7 linked regions of the Homo sapiens genome follow. The protein of the gene in region 4 interacts with the protein of the main gene of each other region in a pairwise test. Each region holds a gene or a part of one and is shown on either strand. Other genes may lie near its edges.

Evidence for each region.
Region 1: the proteins of GNB1 (region 4) and CYFIP1 interact in a two-hybrid assay, tested with the Homo sapiens proteins (one large-scale study listed by BioGRID and IntAct).
Region 2: the proteins of GNB1 (region 4) and CTNNA3 interact in binary tests that used the Homo sapiens proteins (3 or more experiments, as listed by UniProt).
Region 3: the proteins of GNB1 (region 4) and AFP interact in a two-hybrid assay, tested with the Homo sapiens proteins (one large-scale study listed by BioGRID and IntAct).
Region 5: the proteins of GNB1 (region 4) and GNGT2 interact in a two-hybrid assay, tested with the Homo sapiens proteins (one study listed by BioGRID).
Region 6: the proteins of GNB1 (region 4) and DISC1 interact in a two-hybrid assay, tested with the Homo sapiens proteins (2 studies listed by BioGRID and IntAct).
Region 7: the proteins of GNB1 (region 4) and SPAG1 interact in a two-hybrid assay, tested with the Homo sapiens proteins (one large-scale study listed by BioGRID).

The regions. Positions count from the first base shown.
Region 1 is NC_000015.10:22,913,980-22,918,353, reverse strand, and holds part of CYFIP1 (cytoplasmic FMR1-interacting protein 1), read left to right. Parts: intron 1-418; coding exon 419-566; intron 567-1,040; exon of another isoform or gene 1,041-1,342; coding exon of another isoform or gene 1,343-1,723; coding exon 1,724-1,877; intron 1,878-3,471; coding exon 3,472-3,628; intron 3,629-4,374. UniProt on the Homo sapiens protein: Component of the CYFIP1-EIF4E-FMR1 complex which binds to the mRNA cap and mediates translational repression. In the CYFIP1-EIF4E-FMR1 complex this subunit is an adapter between EIF4E and FMR1.
Region 2 is NC_000010.11:65,918,116-65,922,489, forward strand, and holds part of CTNNA3 (catenin alpha-3), read right to left. Parts: intron 2,503-4,374; coding exon 2,215-2,502; 3' UTR 1-2,214. UniProt on the Homo sapiens protein: May be involved in formation of stretch-resistant cell-cell adhesion complexes.
Region 3 is NC_000004.12:73,449,144-73,453,517, reverse strand, and holds part of AFP (alpha-fetoprotein isoform 1 precursor), read right to left. Parts: intron 4,184-4,374; coding exon 4,051-4,183; intron 3,483-4,050; coding exon 3,385-3,482; intron 2,904-3,384; coding exon 2,765-2,903; intron 1,118-2,764; coding exon 894-1,117; intron 1-893. UniProt on the Homo sapiens protein: Binds copper, nickel, and fatty acids as well as, and bilirubin less well than, serum albumin. Only a small percentage (less than 2%) of the human AFP shows estrogen-binding properties.
Region 4 is NC_000001.11:1,789,419-1,793,587, reverse strand, and holds part of GNB1 (guanine nucleotide-binding protein G(I)/G(S)/G(T) subunit beta-1), read left to right. Parts: intron 1-276; coding exon 277-343; intron 344-2,991; coding exon 2,992-3,193; intron 3,194-4,169. UniProt on the Homo sapiens protein: Guanine nucleotide-binding proteins (G proteins) are involved as a modulator or transducer in various transmembrane signaling systems.
Region 5 is NC_000017.11:49,207,775-49,211,789, forward strand, and holds the start of GNGT2 (guanine nucleotide-binding protein G(I)/G(S)/G(O) subunit gamma-T2), read right to left. Parts: upstream 2,801-4,015; 5' UTR 2,670-2,800; intron 1,627-2,669; exon of another isoform or gene 1,433-1,626; intron 1,181-1,432; 5' UTR 1,071-1,180; intron 1-1,070. Other genes in the region: ABI3 (ABI gene family member 3), read left to right, coding at 2,951-3,067. UniProt on the Homo sapiens protein: Guanine nucleotide-binding proteins (G proteins) are involved as a modulator or transducer in various transmembrane signaling systems.
Region 6 is NC_000001.11:231,692,411-231,696,784, reverse strand, and holds part of DISC1 (disrupted in schizophrenia 1 protein), read right to left. Parts: intron 2,960-4,374; coding exon 1,980-2,959; intron 1-1,979. UniProt on the Homo sapiens protein: Involved in the regulation of multiple aspects of embryonic and adult neurogenesis. Required for neural progenitor proliferation in the ventrical/subventrical zone during embryonic brain development and in the adult dentate gyrus of the hippocampus.
Region 7 is NC_000008.11:100,210,122-100,214,495, forward strand, and holds part of SPAG1 (sperm-associated antigen 1), read left to right. Parts: intron 1-2,968; coding exon 2,969-3,307; intron 3,308-3,697; coding exon 3,698-3,797; intron 3,798-4,374. UniProt on the Homo sapiens protein: May play a role in the cytoplasmic assembly of the ciliary dynein arms. May play a role in fertilization. Binds GTP and has GTPase activity.

The sequences.
Region 1 (4,374 bases), on a different chromosome or scaffold from region 4:
CAGTCGAGAGACATGGCCAGGCTCTGGTCATGTGGGTGACTTCACATTCCTGTTGGTTACTGGGGACAGCCAGCTGCGGGCAGGCGGGGCCCAGCTCTGCTCCGTGCGGAGGCTGTGTTCTGCCCTCTCCCTGCCCACAGCATGACTCAGAGCCACCTCACTGCTGCCCTGGGCTAACAGATGCGAACTGGAGCTCAGGGCAGTCTTCTGGGGGTAGTAATACTCTCCAGAAGGCAGACTCCTTTTTAACTTTCCTGTTGAGCTGGTCCATTACCACATCCCTCCATGGCCCCCAGAGTAATTTGTATTTTCATGGGGGCTGTTCTGAGAGCCTTGTAGTTGGGTGAGGAGATGGTGTGATTGTGAGGCTGGAGGTCTCGGCCTCTGGGCCTTGCTGATCACTTGGTGGGGTGTTCAGTGTCCTGCAGGCCATCAGGAAGACCGTGTGTGACTGGGAGACGGGGCATGAGCCCTTCAATGACCCAGCCTTGCGGGGCGAGAAGGACCCCAAGAGCGGCTTCGACATAAAAGTACCACGCCGCGCCGTGGGACCCTCCAGCACTCAGGTTCTCGTCCCTTGAGCCCCGCCTGCACCCTCTCCCTGGGGGGACCCACCCTGAGCTGTGAGCGGGTGGGGCTGGTGAGGCCCGGGTTAAATGAGGTCCTCGCTGCCTGCTCAGGCAGAGAAAGTGGCGCCTGTGGTTTCTGCTGCTCCTCTGTTTCCCACCCAAGTGAGTTGGGAGCGTGAGGAGACGTGCCTTGATTGTCAGATGTGTCATGTGCACTAAAAAGGAGTCTGACTCCATTTCAACTCCCATCCCAAAAATGTGGGCACAAGTCCACGTGTCTGTATTCATTCTGTGTTTCTTGATGGGTGTTTGAATGTCTGTATAATTTTTACGTTGGGTCTGCAAATGACTGTAGATGGGGCGTGGGAAACTGTGAGGTGCTGCTTGCGTGTGTCATGGTCCTAAGCTGCCCACTGTCCTCTCTCCTGGTGTGTTCAGGCCTCCCCGAGGTGCTTCTCACGACTTTCACACCCGGTTTAATCCACACCGCTGCGTCTGTCCTCCGTCCTGGGGCTGGTCTTCTCCCTCATCTCTGCCGGAGGCTTTTAATCTCTTCTGCCACTCTTCTGGAAAGTCACCAGCAATGCACGCTGCTGGCTCTGCAGGAGGGTCAGGGGGACGGCCCTCGGCCTGTGCGTGGTGCCAGCCACCCTCCCTGCCTCCCTCTGCGTGCGTCCCGTGTCCCTGCCTGGGGTGTGTGTGTCGAGTGACTAACGTCTCTCTCCTGCCTCTCCCTCCTGTCTGTCCGTGTCTAGCTCTACCTGGTGCGCACCATGGCCGAGTCCTTGGGCTCTGCCGAGCTGCTCAGGCAGCTCAAGTCTCTGGGCATGGAGAGGCTCTTGCATGCGGTTAACACGTTTCTGAGGCAGTCGTGCACCTACCTACCCCTTTTAACCTTTGGTGGTAAGACATCATTTGTTTCTCTTGACGTTTATGGCACGGAGGCGAACTGCTCCGCTACAAGTTGTTCTTTCCCCAAAGCAGCAGCAACGTGGCCGCGTAGACAGGCACCCGGACCCCTCGGGGAGCTGGTGCGGGGCCCTCCCGACCAGGGCGTAGCGGAGCAGTCCTTCTCTCATGGGCTTTTTGAGTTTGGCATAACTAATGTACCATGTATATTTTCTCCCCCACAAATGTTTCCTTGGATAATCCAGCTTTACATGGTGAGAACCATGCTAGAGTCCCTCATTGCAGACAAAAGTGGTTCCAAGAAAACCTTGAGAAGTAGCCTTGAGGGGCCCACCATATTGGACATAGAAAAATTTCATCGAGAGTCATTCTTCTACACTCACTTGATAAATTTCAGTGGTAAGAGATACTGCTGAGCAGCATCCGGCCTGGCATGTCCTAACACCACTAACACCGTCTAGAATGCTTCCGCCCGCCTGACCACCCCCTACCCCGTCCCTTGGTGCACCCAGACGGTGACTCGTCCTGCCCTCTGTGGCGGTGGCTGTACGTCCCTGGCCTGAGCTCGCTCCACAGGGCGTGGTCCCTACAAGGGTATAAACTGAGGAGCCCGGGCTGGCCCTGAGACATGAACAGAAAATCTTTTCAACCCATGCGGGGTTGGAAACAGGCGAATGTAATCTGGTGCCTGAGTTGAGACACAGGCATTGATAAATACTAGAAATGGCCCTTGCAGACCATGACGTGGGGGGAAGGTGGCGGGTGCCCTGTGCCAGGCAAGCCCATCCTGGGTGACACCCGGCCACCTTGACCGGCCACCGGTGGGTGCGCTCTCTGCCCTCCGTGTGTCTGTCCCGTGTTCTCATCAAGTCCTCCGTTGTCCACCTCTTGCTCAGAACAGGATCCCTGCTGTCTTGGCTGGGGTGCTGCGAGGTATTGGAGGAAATAGTACCACTTTTGCTGTTAACTCCATGAAAGGATGGAGTTCGAGTGTGGGCTCTTTTAATCTGTCTCATTTTTGCGTTAGACAGACCTCCCTGAGTGTGCCTCTAATGCTGCAGCCTGGACATTGGTTTTTATCCTAAGTGAAAGTGAAGAAGTCCTGTTTTTTTGTTTTGTTTTTTGTTGAGACGAAGTCTTGCTCTGTCACCCAGGCTAGAGTACAGTGGGGCGATCTCAGCTCACTGCAAGCTCCGCCTCCCAGGTTCAAGAGATTCTCCTCCCTCAGCCTCCCAAGTAGCTGGGATTATAGGTGCTCACCACTGCGCCTGGCTAATTTTTGTATTTTTAGTAGAGATGGGGTTTTACCATGTTGGCCAGGCTGGTCTCAAACTCCTGACCTTGTGATCCACCCGCCTCGGCCTCCCAAAGTGCTAGGATTACAGGCGTGAGCCACTGTGCCCAGCCAGAAGTCCTGTTTTTATGTCTCCTTTTGAGAAGAACATTTTTAGGTAAGACACAGTGGCTCATACCTGTTAATCCTAACACTTTGGGAAGCCAAGGCAGGAGAATCACTTGAATTCGGGAGTTTGAGACCAGCCTGGGCAACATGGCGAGACCCCCATCTCTATAAAAAATACAAAATCAGTTGGTGGCACGTGCCTGTGTTCTCAGCTACTTGGGAGGCTGAGGCAGGAGGATCGCTTGAGCCCAGGAGTTGAAGGCTGCAGTAAGCTATGATCGCGCCACTCACCTCCAGCCTGGGTGACAGAGTGAGATAGACTCTGTCTCAAAAAAAAAAAAAAGACACTTTCCCCCTGGATCCCACTGAAGGGCTCACAGGGTTGATGAGGTGGCTTTACCTGCAGCTATGCCCAGCTGGTCCTGTCCCTAGTGCAAGGCCCCGGTGACCCCTCCCCACTCATGTCCATGCTGCATGGCTTGGGGCTGAGCGAGGAGGAGCAGGCACCCAGCACACAGCCCTTGTGTCATCTCTGCTAAAGGTTTTTTTTTGCTTGCGGGAGATAACATGGAGTTGTTTGAACCCTCCCAGAAACGCTGCAGCAGTGCTGTGACCTTTCGCAGCTGTGGTTCCGAGAGTTCTTCCTGGAGCTGACCATGGGCAGGAGGATCCAGTTCCCCATTGAGATGTCGATGCCCTGGATCCTGACGGACCACATCCTGGAGACCAAGGAGGCATCGATGATGGAGTGCGTGTCCTGCGGGCCTGTCTCCAGCCTTTGTGTGTGGTGACCGGGGGTCCTCAGAGGAGGTGGCGGAGAGGCCGGGACTGTTTTTAGTATTGTATTTGAAATCAAGTTTCTGGGCCTGGGCAAAATAGCAAGACCCCAGTCTCTACAAAAATGAGAAAACTTAGCCTGGTGTGGTGGCTGATGCGGGAGGATTGCTTTACCACAGAAATTTGTGGCTGCATTGAGCTATGGATTGCACCACTGCATTCCAGCCTGGCCACGTAGCAAGACCCTGTCTCCAAATAAAAAAAAAAAAAAGAGAAATCATGTTTCCTGGGGTAAAGCTTTAGAGATTAATACAAGTAACTAACCAGTTTCTTGGTGTCAGACTGGAATTGAGAGCTCAGGCACTAGAACCAGTCACGTTCCTACTTTGCATGGGTGCTGGCTGGGACCCGGGGACTCAGCCTGGACCAGGGAGATGGATGAACCTGGACCTTCCCCAGGCCTTCGTAGTGCAGGCCCTGTGAGGTGGCCATGCCCGTGAGCTGCCTTGCGGGAGCCCTGTGGCCTGGCCTTTTGTGTGACACAGCCTCTGACCCAGATGAAGTGGGGAAAGGAAGTATTGATTGAACAGCTTTGTTCTGGGGATCAGGACTGTGGACCTAGATGGAAGGGCAGTCTTTCAAAATATAAAGTTCATGGAAGGGAAAGTGTTTGGAAAAGGGTGTGTCTCATGGTGAGCGACTGGGGAGCCGCCCAGC
Region 2 (4,374 bases), on a different chromosome or scaffold from region 4:
TGGGTAAAAAGTCATTTTTATCAAAGAGATGGAGGTTATTTGGTAATTGTATAATTTCAAGTTATTTCTGTTCTTTTGGTGTCCAATACTGCATGTTCTAAACTCCAACATGTGGAAAGATGATGTTGGGTCCGGTGGACATTAGATTTTCTAAATGAGATGCTTATGATTCTTGTGAATGTGGCTTTAGGAGCTAAGATACACAACTGCTAGTTTGGTGATTTCAAAAAAATTTTCTATACAGCTGGTAGTTTGGTGATTAAAAGAAAATTCCTCTCCCCACTAAATTATAAATTTATACTTCTATCTGGAAGAAGGATATACCACAGATGTCACTCGTGCAACATCTACACTTAGAGCAGAAAATGATGGCAGCATTTCAATAAAAGAAAATCTCTATTTGCCTCAATCATCTAGATAATTCTGAAAAACAGAGTCATCTGAATTCCCTAATTCCCTTCTTCACTGCCTTTTCTTCTGGGCAGTGCATTCTGTTCAGAATAGTTATTGTAGGCCAGTCTATGGTGCAAAACAGGGAGGAGTTTATTGCCTTCACCTCCTAGGAAGTTTTACACTGAGCTCAGGCAATCCAGCTACTTGGAAGATTGAAATAATTCATTACAAGAAATTTAACATTTCCTGCATAATTAATAATGACCTATTAAATAGATCCTTCTTTTCCCATACCATTATGCTTAAGATTCCACACATATCGTACTGTCAATCTTTATGCTTTTCTATGTTTCATGCATCCTTTTACCCAAACTGGTTCTCCTAATATCAACTGGTATTGTATGTGTAAATTTTTTTCTCATCAATCTAAGGTTACATCGTTGCTGAGACGCCTCTCATCAATGGCAATGTTTTAGAAGTAAAAAGGTACAATATAATACTATTATGATAATGTAGAATAGAAAATGTTTTTTAAAGTCTGTGAATCAGAACTCTATGAATGAGAAAAAATGAAAACAAAACTTATGGCCTCCAAAGAGTTTCTGTTAAGGACATTTTTGAAAGACAGAGAGAGGCAGGTCATCAGGGGAGAGAAAAAGAGAGAGAGAATGACAGAGAGAGGTACACTAGACTCTAAGACTATTATGAAGTCCATTATGAACTCAACTAGGAATGAACACAGTGACTGGAGTTGTAAAATGACCCCAGTGACTTTTATTTAAAAGAACGTTATTAAAATCACTCCAGCTTCATTGCCATTAACTGCTTCATAGTTCAATGGTACAGTTCATGCAGTTATATTTTACTCAACGTCAAAAGATTTTTCAAACTGCCATTTTCCTTTTAATTACAATTGCAAGCTGATAAAAATGTATTTTTATGTTTGTAAAAATAGGGTCATACAGAACTTACACTTCTGTTATTATTAATATAACTCACTTTGGGATATAGTTTGTTGTCTCATTTTCCCAATGGGTGATAACTCTTCTTTCACATATGTATTCGGATAGGCCTAACACTCAAAAGTACAGAACTCTCTAACACATTGGAAACCCAAAAGGTGAGTATGTGGCATCAGAACTCATTGTAACCTTTATAATGTTAAGAAAGCATTTTATTAATAAACAAGGTTGACCTTCAAAATCCAGCAAGTAGCCTAACTATTCAAATTTGATTAGTTTATAATGGATATTAGCCTAATAAGTTGACAATGAGTACAGCTATCTAGAGATTAAAAGGTGGTTTTTTTGCTATGGCAGGAATCATACATTTCTGCCTGGTTAGGTGCCAGGTTAGATCAGATAAAGAAAGCATGGAGATTAAATGGGAAAATATTTTATAAAAGTCTTTTGTTTCTATTAAAAAACCAAGTTAGGAGCTCATGTTAGTGTTTTAATTCAAGATAAGGATGATAAGTGTACATGAAGTATTACAGATAAACAGGACTCTCTGGCCTCTCCTGTGTTTATTTGGTAACGAATAGTAGATAATCTCTATGATGGGAAACGCTGAATGACACGTGATAATTTCATTCATTCAACAAGCAAATATTCCTTAACTATTAGGTGCTGACCATACAGAAATGACAGTGATATGATCCCAAATATATATTGCTTTTGTTGATTTAGCGCCCAATATTTTATGTTATTTGTGAGTTAAACACCAAAACTTAGTGAAATTACAGAACTTCTTAAGTGTAAAATAAAGCAGTGTGGTTAGGCAGGATTTTGTCATATAGGCACTATATGTAGAATAGTGGTTTCAGTAGATTTGTCTTCCTCTAAATTCACTCATGACTTGCAATGGATGGATTTTTTTCTTTGCTGAGCCTCGTCTGACAGCTGCACACGTTTCCTCTGGCTTCTCTCTTTTAATCAAGGGTTTTTTTGCAGGAGCCTTCATTCTCCACATCACAACTGGGTGCCGGGGCCCAGCAGGACTCTGGATTCGGATGATCTTGGTTGAGGCAATGTAAGACATTTTCACTGTTTGCACTACAGCATTCATTAAATTTTTGGCTGCTTGGATCAGGGATGTGACACTGTCCAACTGTAGGGAAAAAAGAGAAAAAAGAGCTATTATTCCAGGAGGTTTTGTTAATTATTGCCAAGCGTGGGCATGGTGGCATGTGCCCGTTGCCCCAGCTACTCAGGAGGCTGAGGAGGGAGGATCACTTGAGCCCAGGAGGCAAAGGTTGCAGTGAGCCAAGATGGCGTCACTGCACCGCAGCCTGGGTGACAGTGAAACCCCATATAAAAAAATAAATAAATAATAAAAATAAAAATAACTGAGCCTGATAGTCTATTAATGTCACAATAAGCTGCTCAATATTGTCTATGCCCAAACATAAATCAATAAGTTCTGCCTCATTTTTTTGTATCTAGATGGATAAGTGATTATGTTCAATTAACTCTTATGCTAATTATGTAATGTGTTTTGCAAATAACCCTAATACGCCAATTTAAATAGAATCCTGTTAAATATTATCCTGTATAAATCTTACTTTTATTATAGTGTCTCTTCTGTGCTTTGTGGTATTATATGGTTTCAGTTTAACAACGGTACAAATTGGACCAATTCTACAAATGTTTACGGATAAAGGACTTGCTCTTAAAAACATATCAATAGCCATTTACTACAAAAAGGTGGAGTTTAGCAACAATAAAATACATTTTCTGTTTCCTCATAAAATGTTAACATTTCGTCCATGTAAGTAGTTTGTATAGAATACCTGGATCTTTTCTCAAAAACACTAAATACCTATAAATCCTTGACAACTATGTCAATTTGGAATGTCTGCTAGCAAACCCTTGCCAAAACCCTATTGTAATTAGTGATAGCTAAGAGGAATATTCAAAAAGACATGGTACATATTCCTTCTCTTGCTTTTGGAAGTTTCTCACAGAGATTGTGTCAAAACACTAGAATGCTTTCTACTCGTAGGACACTAGTCTAACTCCCTATAGTTTGGATTCAAGACTGTTACCAGACATACGCCTTACATGAGGATTCTAAGCCTACGTGAACCTCACTTCCACTGGTGTGGATCTCACTTTCTTGCACCTGGTCTGTCACCTGGGAAAGCAGCTTCCCAATCACAGGGCAGTGTGAACTGCCATGCCAACTGCTTCTTCTGAGACTCCTGCTGAGAGAAAAACCTGATGCTGCTTGGAAAGATATATGGTCTGTCCAGTAACCTTTTTGGTAAATTGGTACCAAATGTAGCCTATGATCTTGAGTCTCAAGGTGTACCTGAATTCAAAGACCCCTGTTGGATGTTGGTCCTGCACAAAAGCAATTTTTGAAAGACAAATGTCAAGAGTTTGGTTCCAAGTGTCAGAAGAGCTTAAAATAATTGCTAATATCTATTATATGCTGTAGTATGCAGTTGACATAAAGTAACTCATAGCAACCCTATGAGGTAAGTACTCTTATTATCTTCATTTTATGGATGAAGAAACAAAGGAACTGGAAGGTCTGGTGACTTGCTCAAAGTAACACAGATATTAGATAGTAGGGCTGGAACTGGAACCAAGTAAGTCTGGTTCTACCTTGCGTTTTTTCTCATTACATAAACCTGCCTCCAAGAATATCCTACTTCCAATATGTGATTATTTTTCGATATCAAATAGTTAAATAAATTATACTAACCTTAACAGAGTGTCTAAAATTTTAAAGTTGACTAGCCAGCAACTCTGCTTTTAAGAAGCTTGCTCTTATTTTTGTAATGCATGTTGCTACCAGGAGCAATAGAGTATCTTATTTGCCAATGCATTTTGTTAGGATTGTGGTTTGAAAATTTATATACTAATTTCCAAGTTGTGTTTCTTTGGAAGAGCAAATAGAAGTACTCAGTCACCCTTATAGGCCCCAAACCATTTAAAGACATTTAGATTAAGACTATTTCATAACAAAACATTT
Region 3 (4,374 bases), on a different chromosome or scaffold from region 4:
TGTGTAGTGGAAGGCAATCTCCCCTCATCCCCCAGGAATATCCTTTCCTGTCCGCTCTTCTTAACTGTGTCTTATCTACACTCAAAGACCCAGATCTCCGAATCCTGCCCATCCAGTTATCACACCCCTTATCTGGGCACTGGCAGCACTAATTGCCTGCACTGCTCACTTAGCAAGCCTTTCATGTTGGACTTAGACCAGAGCAATAGAAAGTAGACCAGAGCAATAGAAAAAGCTTGCCAGAACAGGCAACATTCTTATCATACTGTGAAACATACCTCAGACTGTGATAGAGGAAAAAAGAGAAGAATGGGTTTTCCAATGAAGGAAGACTATTTACAAAACAAGTGAGGATTAAAATGCATGGGAGTTTGAAGAACATAAGCTCCATTGACTTGCATGACCATCACCATTACAAAAGAGCTCCCACAATGAACTGAAATGTACATGTCATTTCTTAACACCCAAACTGCATGGTTGAATTAAATAAGATGGTTATTCTCTTCAAAGTGTAAATAGTGTAAAAAAAGATTCAATGATGTGTTTCCTGTGCTTGGAATGGAAGTACCCAAATTTGCTGCAAAGATACACTCTAATTCCTCAGAATAGATTGCCCACTTTTCCTCAACCCCCAAATACATATCACAATAACAGTTACAACAGAGATTATTTTTACAAACAGGAAATTGTCCACCCTCGTCAATTTTTCTAGACCTGCTTCCCCAATGAGACTGTGAAGACACTGAGACAAAACTATTTTCAAAGGCATTTTAAGTGTTTTGGGAGTAACGCTCTGTTAGTGAGCCCAATAGTGTTAGGTGAGCGAGGTAGAAGTCTCAGTTACTCTTTGGGGTTGTCATTCTTTTCCATGCTAGCAAGTAACAGTTTCTTACTCTTGCTTCATTGTTTGCAGCGCTACACCCTGAGCTTGGCACAGATCCTTATGGAAAATGAACTTGTCATCAGAGAATGCAGGAGGGACATATGTTTCATCCACCACCAAGCTGCTGAAGCATGGCCTCCTGTTGGCATATGAAGAAGTGCAGCACTGGCCAACACCAGGGTTTACTGGAGTCATTTCATGTCTGATACATAAGTGTCCGATAATAATGTCAGCCTGGTTAGGAGAATGAGAAAAAAAAGTAAGGAGATTGGGCATTAGTCACAAAGTTGGTTCAGTTTTTCAGAAAACTGCTGCAATAATTTCTAATGCCCAGCAATTTATAATTAATATTACAGGAAAATTTGCTATGTAGGATCATGTGACATTATATTGTAAATTCCAGGATTTACCCATTTGTTTGGGCTAAGCCTTAGCAAGTAGTAGCAGATGGTCCATATGTGATGTTGAGGATAGTCATTTAGCTATTTGTGTCAGCTATTTGAAACATGCTTCCAGTTACATACACACTTCTAAAGGACAAAAATGTCTCTGCCTTTATGTTTCCCATGTGTATTTAGTTGAACTTTCCATTTTTCTTTTGATAATCACTATCTGAAGGTAAGAATAGCACAAACTTACCCCTTTTATTCACATACATATACACATGTATACACTTGCAGCTAATATATCATCCTAATTGAAAAGAAGTAAGAGCAATTTTGTGGGTTTTTAAGACTTTCCTAATGTAGAATCTTGCTACCTTGCCTACTTAGGAGATATTTCTTAATCACCTAGTAATAACTTGTAATAAGAAATAATATGTTTTGTGTGCACTTTATCTGTCAGACTAGTGCTGTGTGAGTTATGCAGATTATCTTGTTTAAAACAGCTGTCGTATGAGGGTGGTATAATTTGTATTCTCAAATGTCAGATGAAAAAACTCAAGCTTAATGACATAAGTTGCTTTCCCACTGTGATACAACTAAAGAATAGTGAAAGTAGAATGCGGTTGTTGGCTGGTGGCCTCCGGAACATACACTCCTGAACCATTACACCATCCTGCATCCCTGCAGCCTCCCAGCATGGGAAATTCAACAAACAATTGAGGTGACATTTAATCACAAGAACTCTCCTTTTACTCTTAACCTTTGGGGAAAAAATGTATGACATGAAGACTAACAGCAAATAACTCCCCATTATGAAAAAGAGGAAAAAGGATAAAATAGACAATTTTGTTTGCAATTATGACTTTATAGGAAAAATATTTTTAATTCATCCTGTAATCTTATGTATGATACTAGTGACATTAGGAAGTAAAGAATATTGGCATTACTGACTCGAAAGTCATTTTACTATTCAGAACATAATACTTATCCTGTGCTGTACCCTATACCCTGCGAAAGGGAACCAATTATTCCTGATGTCATAATAATAATATCATGTTACAAAAGGTGAAAATATAAATATGGCTAAAATAGCATGACTAATTTTAATCAATCAAAGATAAAGCTTTTTTAAAACATCAAAGTAAGTATATGAACAAAAAGCAGAAATTATGATTTGAAGTTATGAATTATGAATTGTTATGAATTATGAGTTACATGTTGGTCGTTCTGTCTTTCCGATATATAAAGTTGGCTCAGATATTGTTGACTAAACTGGCTGAACTTCCACCAGCCACCCTGGAGGAATAGGAAGCATGGCCACATGCCAGCCATCCAGAGCTGGGTTCTCACACCCCTCCAACCGTGACTAATCAAACAAGCCTCCTAAGGCCATCTCTACATTGGTTTTTACCGTCTTCCCTAGAGGGGAATTATGAGGCTATTTCAAGTCAAACAGGGCAGAAATGAGATGGGACCAAACCAAGCAGACACTCACCGCTCCCTCGCCACAGGCCAATAGTTTGTCCTCACTGAGTTGGCAACAAGTGGCTGCTGTGGCTGCCATTTTTCTGGTGATGGCCATCAGCTCCGACGAGGTCAGCTGGGGGGCTTTCTTTGTGTAAGCAACGAGAAACCTGAAAGAAGCATTTTTTAACTAAGTCCTGCTGAGTCATTCATGAGTTTTTAGCCGCCTTGCTTCTTCTCACAGACTCTCTACTCTCATGCCAGAAGACATGAGGTCAGCTCGTTTGTTTCATCTACATGGTATTTGAACCAACTTTTGAGATGCATTTACTCTAACAACCACTCCCTGTACTCCTATTATAGAAGCATATCACAATGAAAAAGCAAACTCCAGGAGGAAGCCTGACTTGTATTCTCAACCTCGGAGCTTCATTGATTTTAACTGTGATCTTTTGGTGCTTTAACTCGGACAGACTATGACAGAATGGATATCTTTACTGCAAAAATTTGCACAGTATGGGGAACTTAAAGTCAATACCACAGATCAGACCTCACAGGTCATTCTTGTTGCTTCCAAAGGAGGAGAATGGGGAAGGCTACATTCTCTTTAATAATTTTAATTCACTAAAAATACTGTTTACAAAAACATACGCATTTTGTAAGTAATATTCTCCTAGTTTCTGGAAGAGGCCGCAGCTTCGCTTTGCCAATGCTTGGCTCTCCTGGATGTATTTCTGTAATTCTTCTTCCTGAAAATGAAGAATTATTACATATACATTTTTCTTTTCTTGGATGCATAACTTTGTATATAAAATTGATCAATATTATATACTATTATAAAACCAATCAGAGATGTTTAAATATTAAATATGGTAAAGTGTAAATTTTGATAATTACAGAAAATGGATTTTGGGGAGATTAAGTTTAACATTTTATAAATCACAAAATCATTTAATGGCAAAACTCAATCTTTGGATAAATGGTTACAGTTCTTTCTGTACCAAATTCTTGCCTTTCTGAAGTTATCCAAAAATGAATAATGAATACTACCTTTATTTGTGGATCAAAGGACTTTTGGTTAACATTTTTATTTCTACACTTGATCTTAGCCAAAAGGCTGAGAAGCAATTAACATTTTTGTTTCTAAAGCAAGCCACTAGCTGCTGACTGCTAGTTAATAACAGCTTAATATCTAGACAAATAGATATAACTGGCTAACAACTAGTTGAAAACTAGAGGCTTTCAAACAAACAGCATTTTTAACAGATGATATCAATCCAGTTTTTCATACTCCCCTAAAATTCTAGAGCAACTTACTCCTTTATCTTGGCATTCAAGAGGGTTTTCAGTCTGGAAACACTTCTCCAATAACTCCTGGTATCCTTTAGCAACTCTTAGAATTACTGAGACAGCAAGCTGAGGATGTCTTCTTGAATATTCATGAACAAAACTGAAATATGTGGAGAAAAATATTTCAAGTTATTGGAACTAAGAGACAAAAGGAGCCATCACTTCTCCAGTTATTCCTATATAATATGGCATGTGGAAGTTAAATTCAAATAAATAAACCTGAAAATCAAATATGATTTGAATTATATGAATGGCAAAACTGTTAATACAGACTGTGATCCTTCAAATTGT
Region 4 (4,169 bases):
GTGTATGTTTCATGGGTGTGGTTTCTGCTTCTGCCCCCATCACGGAGCTGTGGGTCTCTGTGGGACGTGCTGTCCTGCCTGGCCAGGCTCTCACCCTCACCAGCAGTGCGTGTGGACCTTCTGCTGTGTGCACAGATGGGAATAAAAGGTCACTAGCATGGTGCTGGTCTTACCTTAGACGTAGAGCTTCCACCGGGCCAATGTGTTTCTCTATGTATGAGGCTGGGTGCAAGGCCTGCTGGATTCAGCTCATCACTTAGGCCTGTTCTTTGCCAGGTTACCTGTCCTGCTGCCGATTCCTGGATGACAATCAGATCGTCACCAGCTCTGGAGACACCACGTGGTAAGTACCTGACCCGGGGCAGGCAGTGCCTTGAGAACCCACAGCCCCTGGCACATTCCTCTGTGAACATGGAGGAAATAAGGTTCTTGACATAATATTAGGCCATCTGTAATTTAAGTGGCCTTAAGATTTAAAACACATAGTAGCAATGTGTGAATTCATTATACTTTTTTTTTTTTTGAGATGGAGTTTTGTTCTTGTCACCCAGGCTGGAGTACAATGGCTCAATCTTGGCTCTGCGACATCTGCCTGCCGGGTTTAAATGATTCTCCTGCCTCATCCTCCTGAATAGCTGGGATTACAGGTGCCCGCCACCACGCCTGACTAATTTTTGTATTTTTAGTAGAGACCAGGTTTCACCACATTGGCCAGGCTGGTCCTGAACTCCTGACCTCAGGTGACCTGCCCACCTCGGCCTCCCAAAGTGCTGGGATTACAGGCGTGAGCCTCCGTGCCTAGCCTCATTATACTTCTAATAAATTTACAAAGTTTAATTTTCAGCAGCTGAGAACTAAAATACACATTTTTTTCTTTTTTTTTTTTTTTTTGAGATAGAGTCTCTCTCTGTCTCCAGGCTAGAGTGGAGTGGCGTGATCTCGGCTCATTGCAACCTCTGCCTCCCAGATTCAAGCAATTCTCCCCTCTCAGCCTCCCGAGTAGCTGGGAACTACAGGTGTGCGCCACCACACCCAGCTAATTTTTGTATTTTCAGTAGAGACGGGATTTCACCACGTTGGCCAGGATGGTCTCTTATCCGTTGACCTCGTGATCTGCCTGCGTCAGCCTCTGAAAGTGCTGGGATTACAGGTGTGAGCCCCCATGCCTGGCCAACATAGATATTTTAACTACAATCAGGCTCAAAGTACCTGCTCTTCTTTTTTTTCCCCTCTATATATTTGTACCTCCTTAGGTGATGATAGGTGGGAGTAGGGTGGGTTTTGATTGTCCCTTTCTGATAGCATCATGTCATTGTGAACAATGAGCACAGACTAAAAATAACAGACGTCACAATTCAAGTGATTCCATCAGACTTCATTTTTAGTGTTTTCACCTTACAGGTAAACGGAAGCCCACTTAAATGCTAGAATTTTTTCATTTGTGGCATCAAAGTACTAAATTAAATGTCCAGATAGTTATTTTATGAGAGTCATTTTAGACTTCAGCTGGCCATGTGGGTTTTTCTGGTCTTCTGAGGCATGATTTGGTGGCAGGAGCTGTGCCCAGCCCAGGGCACAGACCCCTAGTCACGCAGTTGGTGGGGTTCACCGAGACATGGGCCCTTAACCAACTTGTCAGCAAAGCATCTGTGGTATTATAAGGTGTCCTCGTTGTATAAATTTCATAGATTTACAAAAGATTTGTCACCTAGATTGTCAATCTTGAGAAGACTTTATTTATTAGAAGATATTTTTAAAGTGCTTCTGTTCATTAATCATTTTTTTCAGACTCTTTTACGTATCTTGCTTCCCTTCTGCAGTCAGTCCCTCAGGCCCTAGAGAGGAGGCTCCCTGTGCAGTGTCTGTTGAGATTGGCTGATTGGATTTGCATTGCCAGGCCCAGCCAGGCTTTCCTCTGAGGCTGACATGAACGGACAGTGCTCTCTGGTGTTGCCTTCCATGGGTCGAGGCACAGGAGAATAGTATGTTGGTGGGCGTGTGGCCCTCACAGCTGTCCTTACACCTGAGCCAGGCTTCTGCTCTGTGCAGGGCTCTGTCAGCGTCTCACCTTTTGACAGCTTGTTAAGCAGAAATGTGATAGAATACCAGGTATGGCCGGGCGCGGTGGCTCATGCCTGTAATCCCAGCACTTTGGGAGGCCGAGGCGGGCGGATCACCTGAGGTCAGGAGTTCGAGACCAGTCTGACCAATATGGAGAAACCCCGTCTCTACTAAAAATACAAACAAAATTAGCCGGGCATGGTGGCGCATGCCTGTAATCCCAGCTACTGGAGAGGCTGAGGCAGGAGAATCGCTTGAACTCGGGAGGCGGAGGTTGTGGTGAGCCAAGATCGCGCCATTGCACTCCAGCCTGGGCAACAAGAGTGAAATTCGGTCTCAAAAAAAAAAAAAAAATACCAGGTGTGATCACTGAGAACTCAGCTGCTCTCCTGTTTGTGATTCCAGGAAAGGGCAGGAGGACCTCAGAATTGCTGTGAGCCATTTGTTTACCTGGCATTGGCCTTCTCCTGCCTGCCTTTTCTGAGACCCTGTGGAGGGGAGGCCAAGGGAGGGCACAGAGGGAGCAGCCACAGATAGAGTCGCGTCCCCTCCGCCATCCAGGGCCTCCACGTAGCTTCCTGCCACCCCTTCCATGCCCATCCATGACCAAAGAGGGGGCACAGCCTCAGTGGTGCTGCTTGAAAAGTGCCCCCAGCTCCCTGTTTGCTGGCATTTGAGTTGAGGTAGCGATCCCGTCATTCTGAAGCCCAGGCCCTGTGCTCATCTCTGTATAATTTTGCTTGCTTTGCTTTGTTTCCCTTCCAAAGTTGTATTACATTTAAATTTGTCTTTAAACAATTTACGTTTTTAAAGTAACAGTGCAGAGGCTCACTGTGGCCCTGGGTGGTTTGAAGGACAGATTGTCTGTCACATGACTAGCCACCCAAGAAGTTAAGGCTGATGTCCCCTTGTCATTCGCTCCTGCTCCAGTGCCCTGTGGGACATCGAGACCGGCCAGCAGACGACCACGTTTACCGGACACACTGGAGATGTCATGAGCCTTTCTCTTGCTCCTGACACCAGACTGTTCGTCTCTGGTGCTTGTGATGCTTCAGCCAAACTCTGGGATGTGCGAGAAGGCATGTGCCGGCAGACCTTCACTGGCCACGAGTCTGACATCAATGCCATTTGCGTGAGTCTGGGTGGAGGTGTGGGGTCGGGTCCTCTGCCGTCTCTGCTAGCCGTTCAGATTGCTAAATTTTAAACTTTTCTGGATTAGATGTTCTCCTTTCTGATCCTTATACAACCTCATGTACAGATGGGGATACAGAAAACTCCCGATGGGAAACTTCTCTGTGTTGACCACTTGTCTCACAGATACTCACAGGGTGTTGTATGCCAGTCCCCGTTCCCACCTCTACAGCTGAGCAGTGGTTGGGATCCTGGAGGGGAAAGACAGTAAGATAACTCAGGCCACCAGTGGTTACAGAGCCTTACTGGTCAGGGGCACAGCTAACCAGGGAACCTGCCCTCCTCTTTAGCACGCGGATGGCTAGGCAGTGTTTCCAGCCCCTGGCCTTGTGAGGAGACTTAGAAGGATGTATCTGTTGGTTGGACAGAGCTCTGCTGCAGTCCTGACCACAGCCTTGGTCAGCCCGCTTCCCTCCTTCCTCCATGAGATTAGCCCTGATGGCTGGCAGCTACAGCAACATGCACACCTGTCAGTGATGACTACTTTCTCACTATCCTTTGGAATAAATTCTACTCTTTGGGGACAGTAATCACAGTGTCCAAGATCACAGTGTTTGTGTGCCTCCCCAGTGCAAATCCCCTCCCATCCCAGTCCCCTGTAGTTCCTCCCCCATCCCCCCACCCTTTTTTTTTTTTTTTTGAGACGGAGTTTTGCTCTTGTTGCCCAGGCTGGGGTGCAATGGTGCAATCTTGGCTCACCGCAGCCTCCGCCGCCTCCCGGTTTCAAGCAGTTCTCCTGCTTCAGCCTCTTGAGTAGCTGGGATTACAGGCGCACGCCGCCACGCCCAGCTAATTTTGTATTTTTAGTATAGATGGGGTTTCTCTATGTTGGTCAGGCTGGTCTCAAACTCCCCATCTCAGGTGATCCACCCGCGTCAGCCTCCCAAAGTGCTGGGATTACAGGCATGAGCCACCGC
Region 5 (4,015 bases), on a different chromosome or scaffold from region 4:
AGATCTGGGAAGCAACGTTATTGTTTCATATAGTGACTCAGAGTTTTCCTCTTTCTCTCCAGGTCCAGCAAGGGAGAGTATACAATAATGGTCAAGAGAAGGGGGTCTTGGCTGGGCGCGGTGGCTCACCCCTATAATCCCAGCACTTTGGGAGGCCAAAGTGGGAGGATCGCTTGAGCCCAGGAGTTCAAGATCAGCCTGGCCAACATGGCGAAACCTCGTCTCTACAAAAGATAGAAAAATTAGCCGGGGTGATGGTGAGTGCCTATAATCCCAGCTACTCGGGAGGCTGAGATATGAGAATTGCTTGAACCTGGGAGGCGAAGGTTGCAGTGAGCTGAGATCATGCCACTGCACTCCAGCCTGGGTAACAGAGAACAACTGTTTCAAAAAATAAAAAAAGATCCCAGGCACTGTGGCTCATGCCTGTAATCCCAGCACTTTGGGAGGCTGAGACAGGCAGATCACCTGAGGTTGAGGGTTCGAGACTAGCCTCGCCAACATGGTGAAACCCCATCTCTACTAAAAATACAAAAATTAGGCAGGCGTGGTGGCGGGCACCTGTAATCCCAGCTACTCAGCGGGCTGAGGCAGGAGAATCACTTGAACCCAGAAGACGGAGGTTGCAGTGAGCCGAGATCACACCACTGCACTCCAGCTTAGGCGACAAGAGTGAGACTCCATCTCAAAAAAAAAAAAAAGAGAGAGAGAGAGACAAGGGGGTCTGGAGCTTACCAGACTCCAACTCTGATCTGCTGCTTCCTTACTGCTTTCTCAGTGTGGCCTTAGGGAAGTCACTCAACCTCTTTGAGTATTAGTTTCCCCAGCTGCAAATGGGTATTAAAAAAACCTACCACATGCAATTATTGTGGGTACTAAGAAAATAATGTCTATAAAATATTATAATATACTACCTGGCACATAATGAACACTTAATACACTTATTATTATCACTAATAATGCTATTGTTATTATTATCACTGCAGGGTTATCAGGAAGGCCTTCCTGGTGCCTAGCCCCAGTGATACTAAGAGTAGATCCCAGCCCAGTGCAACCTCAGCCCCTCTCACCTGCCACAGAAGAGCACACTCTCCAAGTCACTTGTCCTGGACTCAGGTAAGATAGTGTTTGAGCCTCCTAGTTCTTCATCAGCTGAAAATCTTCAGATAAAGCAGATGGCCTGGAAACCAAAATCTCTGATGCCTAAGCTGATCATAGGCTCAAAGTTCTAAGCCCATCACCCGCTTGAGCCTTCAAGCCCTCACTACAGCAGAGCAGAGAGACAGACATTCTCCCCACAAAAACAAACGCGAAAACAGAAGCCACCTTTTCACCACCTTGCCTTGCGTTAGCCTCACACTTTTGGTGACCTCACTAGCTTAGAGCCCGCAGCGCTTCTATTTCTCCACCTCCACCCTGCAGCCCCACTTACCCCGCTTCGCCTGCTTTCTCCTCCTTCCCTTCCCACCTCTGAGCATGCTCTGAGGCTGTCCTTCCTCCTGAGGCAAGTCCTAGACCGGCCCCTAACCTCCTTAACCAAGATGCTTTGTGTTGCCCATTGGATCCCCACAGTTTCACCTTACGAAGTTCTCCTAGCTCACTCTTCATCCACTCATTCAATAAAAATGTCCTTGCTCACCAAGCTGTGCCACTTAGTACTTGGGGCGTGGCCACCTCTAATGCCTCTGTTCAAGCTTCTTTGCTGCCATGCCTCCCTCTGAGCCCTGAATGTGGGTTCCTGAGCACAGAACCCACATCCTGGTTTTTTTCTTGCTGTCCCCCCAGGACCACCCAAGGGCTATGCCATTTAACAGACATTGAGCTCCTGCTCTGGTTGACACCCATCCAATGACAAGGGACCCGCTGGAGGAGCAAAAGTTAAGGGACCAATATGGTCAATGGGAGGTCCTCTTATTCTCCTGTCTCTAGGATGACAGGCTTGGTGGTGGGAGGGGCAGAGAGGAGGCCCGCCGTCCATCCTAACTTCCGTGCTCCAGGACCCAGTCCAACTCTCAGCTGGGAGCTCTAAGAATTTGAAATCAGAACAGGATCCTGGAGGTTGTCTGGTACAACTGTCCTGTTAATGCGTGAACCACAGCCCATACCTCCTAGGCAGGCTCAGTGCTCTGTCCACCGCTGCTTCCTAAAACCGCAAGTTGATCTGAAATTTGAACCTGGTGCTTCTCAAATCCAAGTCCTTCCTGTTGTCTAATCTGAGTCCCTCACATTACGCTTGGTCAATTTCATCTTGTCCTGCCTTCATCTGCACAGAGCGTGTAGGGCAGATCTTCATCACACACAACCCTTCGCAGGCTTGCTAACACCCCTCTGGCAACCTCTCTGGTCATGTCTTCCCGGTGTCCAACCCTGACCCCTCTTGCTGCCGCATCGGCTGTTTTCTATTTTTGCTGTGCTGCTGCCCCACAGTCCTCTGGTATGACGGATCTCCATATCCTATCCACCCTCCACTCCCCTGTCCCTTGGTGACTCATCCCTGAGCTTCCCAAGGAAGCCCCCACCCTCTGCCCTTTCCTCCCGCCTTCCATGAGTGGAAAATCCACCTCCGCCCCCTATAGCAGGCCAGCCCCCTTCCTCCCCAGTCTCCGACCCCATCCCCCAGCCGACCAGTTTCCTCTCCAGGACCAGGGAGCAATCACAGCTGCCCCGACCTTGGCTTCCTCTGCTGGGTGGGATTGGGGGCTGGGCCCCCAAATGGGCCCCTGGCTTCCCCCTTCCTCTGGGCAGGGGACAGAGAGACACAGGCTCGGGGAGCAGGACTGACTTCCTCTTGTCCCGGAATGAGCATGCCTGCCCTTTGCAAGCAGGTTTGGGTCTCACGCAGAGGAAACCAAAAGCAATAAGAGGGAGGGAAGGCAGAGCAACCAATCAAGGGCAGGGTGAGACTCAAAACGAGCGGGCTCCCTGGGGAGCCAGACAGAGGCTGGGGGTGATGGCGGAGCTACAGCAGCTGCAGGAGTTTGAGATCCCCACTGGCCGGGAGGCTCTGAGGGGCAACCACAGTGCCCTGCTGCGGGTCGCTGACTACTGCGAGGACAACTATGTGCAGGTAGGTAGAGCGGGCGGAAGCCTGACACCCCAGCCCCCGGAGGGGGGACCCTGAGCCCTGCCCCAAGTGGGGCCCTGGGACCCATCCTGACAGTGCTTGTCCTGGGCCTTGGCTGAGAAATCCTCCCATTCCAGGCTTCGGCTTCATCCCAGACCCCAATACTTAACCCTGACCCCATACTACCCAAGCCCCCACTGTGCCCCTTCTGTCTCTCAGAGCCTCAGAGATGCCTGGGACAGACAGTGCGATTCCATCCTGTTCTCAGGTGTCACCTCAGGTTCATCCTTCTGAGTTCCCACGGGTCAATCCAGAGACCCAAAGCCTCCGTCCTCACACAGATGCTGGCGATCATTCTATTTCCAGGCCGGCTCTGGGTGAGGCTTCAGAAGAACTTCCCAAACAGCACAGTGAACCTGAGATGGACAAGGGAAAGGGGCTCTTTCCCTGAGTTTGGGAAAGGGAGAGTGGGGATAAGGCAGAGTAGGCTGGGCTAAAGAGAGGGGATCTCATGCAGAGGCAGGGGGATGGCCCACATAACTGCTGGGAGCAGGCTTCTAGCAACAGATAGGGAGGTGGCATTGTAGAACAGGTTTTAAATTGTGTGGTTGTCCTGGGGCTGAGAACATAGATTCCTGGATTCAGGGAGGAGAGGCAAGGCAACTGAGCCATGATGGAAATCACTTCTGTTATTTCATTAATCTGTACAACTACCTTGTGAGACATGTATTATAATTCCTATTTTACAGATGTGGAAACAGTAGCTCAGGGAGGTGAGGTGACTTGTCTAAGGCCACACAGCTCCAAACAGCAGAGCCAGGCATTCCTTTTTTTTCGCTCTTGTTGTCCAGGCTGGAGTGCAATGGCTCGATCTTGGCTCACTACAACCTCCGCCTTCCGGGTTCAAGAAATTCTCCTGCCTCAGCCTCCTGAGTAGCTGGAATTACAGGC
Region 6 (4,374 bases), about 230 Mb from region 4:
ATTGCTCCTTGGCTACAAACCTGTGCAGCATGTGACTGTACTGAATACTGCAGACAAGTGTCACACAATGGTAAGGTATTGTTGTATCTAAACATATCTGAACATAGAAAGGGTACAACAAAAACACAGTACGATAATCTCACAGGACCACTGTCACATCATATATGTGATCCGTCATTGGCCAAAATGTCATTATGCAGTACATGAGTGTAATTGAAGAGAGTGTCATGTTTTTCCCTGCCCAGCTGTGGGACTGCCATAGACAACAATACTTACACTAAAGAAAAAGTGTGTCCAGATTCTACCATTTGAGATAAGATAGGAATTTAATTTGAGCTATGGACAGAAGGGAGAGCTTCATTTGCTTTTGACTCAAACTCTCTAAATTGGAGCTATTTCTCTAATGATGACAATGGTTAATTTCTGGGTACTTGCTAGATGCCAGGCCCTGTCTGAAGCACTTTGCACATATGATCACATTTAGTTTAATTAACTGGAGAAGAGAAACACCGCAGGAAGGTAGACCCTCTTGCAAAACCCAGGTGAAAGATAACAAGGATCTGAGCCAGGGCAGCGGCCATGGTGATGAGAGACAGATTAGCAGTAGGACTGAGAGGGCTTGGAGGCCAGCCAGATGTGGAACAAGGGAGAGGGAGGTGTGGAAGATGGTTGTGGTTTCTGGCCTAAGAAACTGGATAGATTCTATGCATTCAAATCAACCAATATTGGAGGCCCTTCAGAACGGGTTTCGGGGAAAGACAAGGGGCACTGGTTTAGGCAATGACTAACTGGAAGACTCCACACATCACCCAGAATACAAGCCTGCATCTGTGCTCTGACCTCACTCCCTCTCTGCATAATAAATCAGAGGGCTGGGCTGAGGTCCCTGAGGGCTGAAACAGGGCAAACAGGGACAGGGCTAGAAACATCAGACTATAGATAAAGAACAGATGGGAGATGCTCTTTCGGGGAATGAGCATGAACTTCTGCAGATTACTCCTCCCAAATGCCTGATGAGTGGGTGCTCCACTTCCCTACCCACATGAACATATCCACACACCACACGCAGAAACACATGAGTGCACACACACAAATACACTCGCACATGCATGCACACACACACATGAACACACAGCACAAACATGCACACACACACACGCACACACAGGCACACCTACATGCACACACATACACACACAAACACATATGCACACACACACCAGGATTAAAATACAGTCTGGCAACAGATGAGCCACAGAGCATCTCTACCTGGGCTTCTCTGGGAACTTTTGTGGGTAGAGGAACCCTACCTACTTCCGGCTATACCCACCTCTCAGATAACTGGATGGACAGCATCATCATAAGGCTGGGCCTTAGATGTCTCCAGTTTGTACTTATTTCCAAAGCAGCTACATTCTCATTTGAGCCTTAGAACAATCCTATGAGTTGGTGTTATCTCTAAATACGGAAACTGAGAGCCAAAGAGGTTCAATGACCAGAAGCGAAGTCTCCCGACCCTGTGGAAGGCAGCAGCCACTGCAGCAGGATGGAAGGGAATGAGTGAAGCGGATGAAGAGCAGGATCGCCCTGATAGAGGGCATCCCCATTTTTGTATCTCTCAAGTCCTTCCAAACATCACCCAGCTCAATCTCCCCTGCCCCCAGTTTCCTGTCTCAAAGCAGAGCTGGGCTGCATGAACCACGTCTCACCTAAGCCGGGGCCTGCAGAGGAGCCTGCGGCCCAATGGAGAGCAAATCTGAGCACCTAAGTGACAGAGAAGACAAAAAGGAGAGTAGATCTGTGTCCAATTCAAAGAGACAGAAGTGCAGCAACATCCTGTGCAGCCGGCTCCAAAAGGAGCTGCTGCAGCTTCCAGGAGGAAGTCAGTTGAGCCCAGAACCCCTCGTTTCCTGCCGTCTGCCCAGTGCTAATCTGAGCTCACGACAATCTCGGGCCACAGAGGTGGAAGAGACACTGACCTCCATCTGCCTCCGGTTTCTCAGCAGGCAGTCCCGCAGCACTGGCTCCCATTTCCTGAGCAGGGTGTCCCAAGAGTGGGCATCCCCTGAGCCGCTGCTCCCATCACCACCACAGCCAGCCAGTGAGGGATCCAGAGAACTGGAGGAGCCAGGGTCCATGTCTGGTAAAGAATGCATGTCACGCTCTGGCCTGGAGCTGTTCCTTGCGGCCTGGGCCAAGTCTGCAGAGACCCGTGTAGCCAAGAGACTGAAGGGCCGAGAGAGACATCGCGGGTCCTCGTGAGGCCCGTCCAAGCTGGCAGCTTTGGCTCCCATCTCCTGGGGGCTCTGGCAATGGGACTCAGCCTCTCTGGATGGTGGGCAGCCTTCTGCTTCTCCACGTTCCCCGGCAGAGCCAAGCGAGAGCCGAATAAAGCTAAAGCTTGAGGTAAAGGCACTGTGAGAGCCAGGAGGGGTTGGGGGGACCTCAGGGCCACAGCCAGGGCTGCAGCTGTTGCTACTCAACTCTGCTGATGGCAGAGAGCCTGCTGCCCGGACACGCCTTGCTCCATCGCTGCAGGCTGCCTCCCAGCTGGCGTCCAGGGTCTCAGAACTATCCATGGCTGCAAACTCTTGCTGCCACCCAGCACTCCCAGGGCCACACGGCCAGCTAAGCCTGTCAGGCAATCTGGTGCCACCTCTGAGCTGAATCCCAAAGTGCGCCGAGGTTCCTCTCACAGAGGTCACAGTAGGGGCTGCTGCACTCTTGGAAACAGGGCTCCGGACCAAGAGGCCTCTCGAGTCAAGGCCACACTGTCTGGCCCTGGACTCCGAGTGGTGGGACTCCTCGCCAGACACCCCTCCTGGGAACCGGAACAGTGTGCCCACTGCTGGGGAAAGGAACCCGATCCCAGGCCCTGTCGAGCTTCTCATGTAGCCCGGCCTCCGTGCCAGCCGCCGCCTCCGAAAGCACGCTGCAGGTGGTAAGCAATCCCGGCTGCCTGGGAAGAAAAGAAAAAACAGCACCATAAACATGCAGATCTTACTGGCCCAGCTGGAACTGCATCTGGAGAACATCCCTAGGTTTAAAGGTCATCTCTCAGTACACCTGTCAAAGATAGATGCTGGCTCAGTGGTCCCAGGGCCAATCCATTATGTAAATCCTGACAATCCTCAGGAAGTATTTGCCTGGAACATGTAGAAATCAACACAGCATCTCAGCTCCTCGGTTTAGCAGAGCAGCTGGCACTGCTGTACGCTATGCCAACAGGTCAGCATGAACACAACCTTGGCAGCTCCTGAACCCTCCAACATCTTGCCTGTTGGTCTTTTATGGCACCTCAGTACTCTCATCCTGGAGTGGGCCTGGAAAGCAAATGACGTGAAAGAGGAATGCCAGAGCATGCCTCTAAATGAGATCCAACTATTTACTCTAGCTATTCGTTGAACATGTGAATGTTCACTAGCGGAGCTATCCATGTCCCTGCAAGACTGATCTGTTGCTGCAGACCATGGATAGCTGGCTGTGCCGCAATGTATGGCCATCATCTCATCTCACTCAGTGGATGACAGGAGGCCTGCTTGATGTGTTCTCCAAACCAGCATTGCATTCCCTTCCCAGCTATGCTATAGGAATAGGAACAATAACAAATGCTGACTCCTCATTGACTGGTTCAAACCCTGATTGTACCACTTGCTGGTTGTGTGACCTTCCACAAGTTACTTAACCTCTCTGTGCCTCAGTTTCCCCATCAGTAAAGTGGTGATATTAACAGTAGCTCTCTCATAAGGTGGTTGTGAGCATTCAACTAAATGAGTTACTATTTGTAGACAGCTTAGAACAGTGCCTGGCACATATGATGATAAGAGTGATTAAAATGTTATTATTTTTAGATTGCATAGCACTTTGCTACTCATAATGTGTTTTAATTTACATTAATTTCATTCACTCCCGACCAAAACCATGTGAATCAATCCGACCCGAAACTATAGCTTTCCTTTTATATTAAAGGCAACTGAGATTCAGAGAACTTGACTTTCCAGAACCCCCTGCAAGTAGCCAAGTGACCAGGACAAAGTCTCTTGACTCTACTGGCCCACACAGAGCTCTCATCTCAGGACCCTGCCACATTGCAAATCAGGCATGAAAGTAAAACTAGGCAGCACTAGGCACAGCTGTAATCATACCATGGCCTATGGCGAGAAATGGAACAAACTTCACTCCAGGCCCACACATCCTGCTTTGCTTCCCAGAACAGACATGGGCTTGGAATCTTTGTCCTGTTAAGCCGAGATCACTAGGCATTAAGGATCCCACTGAGCTACGATCATGGCACATGCCATCTCCTAAAAGGGGTGGGGGTGGCATTGATAATCTCTGGGGAAATGAGCACAATGACCTCTAGCCCCCTATTTC
Region 7 (4,374 bases), on a different chromosome or scaffold from region 4:
TGGCTCTGGGTTTTTCATAAATATACTTTATTATGTTGAGGAATTTCACTTCTATTCCTAGTTTTCTGAGTTTTTTTTTTTTTTAAATCATGAAAGCATGTTGGATTTTGTCATGCCTTTTCAGCATCAATTGTGGGATCATGTATGCAATTCTTTACTTTTTCTGTTAATGAGGTGTGTTGGCATTGATTGATTTTCTAATGCTGAACTACCTTTGTATTCCTGGGATAAATCCCACTTGGCCATGGTGTATAATCCATTCAGTATGCTGTTGAATCTGTTCGCTAGTATTTTGCTGAGGATTTTTGGTCTATCAACTACTCACACTACCCTACTTGAGGCTACACTGTTGGCCATTCATTCCTTTGATAGTTGTTATTGTTGACTCCTTTCTTCCCAAACTACTCTTGGTGTTTCTGAGGCAGTATGCGCTCCTGTTTTTTTCTCTCATTTCTAGGCATTTCTGTGCCTACACTGTAGATTTTTCCTCTCTTCATCCTTTAAGTGTTAGTATATCTCAGGGATCCTTATGAGCCTTTGAGTGATCCCATCCACATCCAAACTTTTATTTTTATTTTTTGTAGAGATGGAGTCTTGCTATGTTGCCCAGGCTTGCTTCAAACTAGTGGCCTCAAGCAATCCTCCTGCCTCAGCCTGCCAGAGTGCTAGGATTATAGGGGTGAGCCACCTTGCCAGTTCCACACCCAAACTTTTTTTTTTTTTTGAGATGGAGTTTTGCCCTGTCGCCCAGGGTGGAGTGCAATGGTGTGATCTTGGCTCACTGCAACCTCCACCTCCCGGGGTCCAAATGATTCTCCTGCCTCAGCCTTTTGAGTAGCTGGGATTACAGGCACCTGATACCATGCCCAGCTAATTTTTGTATTTTTAGTAGAGACAGGGTTCACCATGTTGGCCAGGGTGGTCTCGAACTCCTGACCTTGTGATCTGCCTGCCTCAGCTTCCTAAAGTGCTGGGATTACAGGCATGAGCCACCGTGCCCGGCCCCAAACTTTTATATATTAGTAACTCCCAAGTCACTGTCTCTGGATAAGGCCACTTCTCTGATCTACATGTAGAGCCACCCTCTGAACAGCTCCATTGCATTGTCCCACGGGTATCCCAACACCCAACAGAACTCACAAGTCTTTCATGTTTGGGCCTCTGTTTACCTGTCCAGAGACTATCAAAGTTGTTCAGAGCCATTTCAATCTTAAGGTAAGAATGCTTTGCATTCAGTTCAAATCTGGGTTATGGCTGGGCACAGTGGCTCATGCCTGCAATCCCAGGACTTTGGAAGGCCAAGGAGAGAGGACTGCTTGAGACCAGGACTTTGAGACCATCCTGGACAACATAGCAAGGCCTCATCTGTATAAAAAATTTTAAACATTAGCCAGGCATGGTGGCTGGCTCTCACCTGTAGTCCCAGCTGCTCTGGAAGCTAAGGGGAGGATTGCCTGCCCCAGAGGTTGAGGCTGCAGTGAGCTATGATGGCACCATTGCACTCCACCCTGGGCAATAGAGCAAGACCCTGTGTCAAAATAAATACAAACAAATAATAAAAATAAAAACAAGTCCGAGTTATGCTGGCTTCTAGCTCTGTGTACTAGAGCGCATTCCTTAGCTTCTTGTTTCTCTGTTGCCTCATTTGTAAAGTGGGAATGATAATACTTGGTATTAGGATTAATGTGATCCATATCAAGTTCTAAATGAACTGCAGCTCTTTAGTGATAGCATTGGTCAGACCCGAGGGGATACTGTGCAAAGGGGTGGAAAGTAATACCAAGCTGACCATTGTTTCTGCCGACCCTGACTTTTGTGCTTTCACCCAGTTTCTGGTGGAGAACCTGATTGACAGAAACCAGATTAAAACTGGAGCCTTACTCTAATAACCCTACTGGGTTTAATCTGCAGATTTATCTTTATAGCAAAATCTTTTTATTGTTTTAATAATTAAGATCCCTTTGGCTGGTGATCCAAATTGGATGTTATTCTGCTGTATAGAAAACAGTATTTATTAATGTGTTTTTATACTTGATGCTTGTCTTAAGGTGATCATCCACTGATTTTCACTTAAATAATTGTGCTTTTCTATTCCCTCTGTCTCTGTGCTTAAAATCTTGGCTTTACCATTCATGAAAAAGAATGGAAAATATATCCATTAAGAATCAGATAAGAATTCGTTAAAAGAGAAAGCTTGGAAATCTCTATATTTAAGTACTTTTTAACGGTGCTGTGAAATGATTAATTGCTTTGTTTTAAATATTGCTAAGACACCATAAATTAAATATTTACACATCCTTTTTATATTTAAAAATAGATTCAACAATTATTAAAGCTATTAATACCTGAACTCCTAATCAAAATCAAAGAAATTTTTAGTTTGAATAAGGCAATGGGATGGAAAATTTGCTGTGTTTTTAAGGCTCCCTTTAAGTTTAAAAACTAGGTGCCTAATTTGTGACTTTTTTGCTAAATTCACTTTTAAAATGACTTAAAAATCACTTACGCTTTATTTTTCTTTCAAATCTTTTTCTCCTAATCTTTTAAAATAAGGAAAGGTGCCTCCGTGTTGGGTATTATAATTGTATTCAAGTTTTTGCAACTCCATTCAAAAAAGTACGTATTTTGTAAGCTCACCTGGACAGGTGGACTTGATGAAGGGGATGGCTCTGAGATGCCGGTTTTCAGCCACAGGCCCTTCAGCGCTTAAACAGTTAGAGACAGGGTACGTTTCTGGCCGAAACCCGGGAGCCGAGTCCTCAGGAAGCCGCAGGGGGCCTCGAGGGAGCGGACTGGGCCGACTGGCTCTAGAGGTCCGGCAGCACAGGCTCCGCCCGCAGGGGCGGTGCCCGAGCCGGCTTCCCTAGAGCCCGCCCTCCGCGTCCTGCACCCCCGCGGCCTCCGCGGCCTCCGCGGCAACTGCTCCCGGTGATGCAAACCCTCACTTCCCGCATCCACTTCCTCACAGAGCCCGCGGAGCCGGCGGGAGCCGCGCGCGCCGCCCAGCCGTGCGTCATGGGCAACATCCAGAAGAAGCTGACTGGCAAAGCCGAAGGCGGCAAGCGGCCGGCAAGGGGCGCGCCGCAGCGGGGCCAGACCCCGGAGGCCGGCGCGGACAAGCGGAGCCCACGGCGGGCCTCTGCGGCGGCGGCGGCGGGCGGCGGCGCCACCGGGCATCCGGGCGGCGGGCAGGGCGCGGAGAACCCTGCCGGCCTGAAGAGCCAGGGCAACGAGCTGTTCCGAAGCGGGCAGTTCGCCGAGGCGGCCGGCAAGTACTCGGCGGCAATCGCGCTCCTGGAGCCAGCAGGTAGGTGCGCCGCGCCCCGCCGCTTCCTGGGCCCCTCGCGCTGCGGTTCACCCGACCTCCGGGGCCCCCGTGGGAGAGGCGCTGCCGCCTCCTGAATGACAGGCGCCGGCATCGCTGCATTCCTCCCAGGTGACTAAGAGCGCCGTGCCACCTGACCTCAGTGAGCAGCACCTGGGAATGCCGGCATGTTCCCGGCCAGGCACGTTTGCCTCCGTCCCCGCCGGGTTTTCCCTTGGTGGCTGTTGCGGGTAGCAGCTCCGTGGAGTTCTGCATGATCAGTCTGCAGGACTGCAGTGCCACCCCACCGGAGACCTCGGCCGTCTTGTAATTCTGGTGAACTGTGATCTTGCTAATGGATTTTAACTGTATTTAATTAAATGTGATTTTTAGGAAGTGAAATTGCAGATGATCTAAGTATCTTATATTCAAATAGAGCAGCATGTTACCTAAAAGAAGGAAACTGCAGTGGCTGCATTCAAGATTGTAACAGGTAAACTGCACGTTTTCAGGTTTGTCAAGAGATTGTTATAATTTCATTATGGTGAATGCAATATCCAAGATCCTAAATTTTCTGCCTAAGGATCTAATTTCTTAAGAGCTTTATGGTATGTTAATTGATTGATGCATAAAAATCATAAATTATCTTACGTATATGAAGAGAGTTATAGAAGATTGTGCAAACTTTTTTCATTTCCACTGCTACCGCCCTAATTCGTGCTCTTTTCATATCACTCCTAGACTACTGGAGAAGCCTGATAACTAATTCCAATCCACTGCGGCATCAGAATAACTTTCCTGAAACATTATTTTGTTCAGATTGTTTCCAACAGGCCTTTAATGGCTCAGTATTGGCTTCGAAATAACTGTAAACTTCTCTGTCACTACACTGCCTCCAAGCAAGTTTCTCCTTCCGTTTGGTCTACTGGACCACTTGCTTACTCTCGCCCACCTTGTTCTCTGAGCCCTTGCCCATGTTGCCCCTAATGGTGGTAATGCCCTTTGCACATCTTATCTTCTGAAGTTCTTGCTCAGCTGCCCCTTCTCTCTACCTTCTTGAGTGCCCTAGA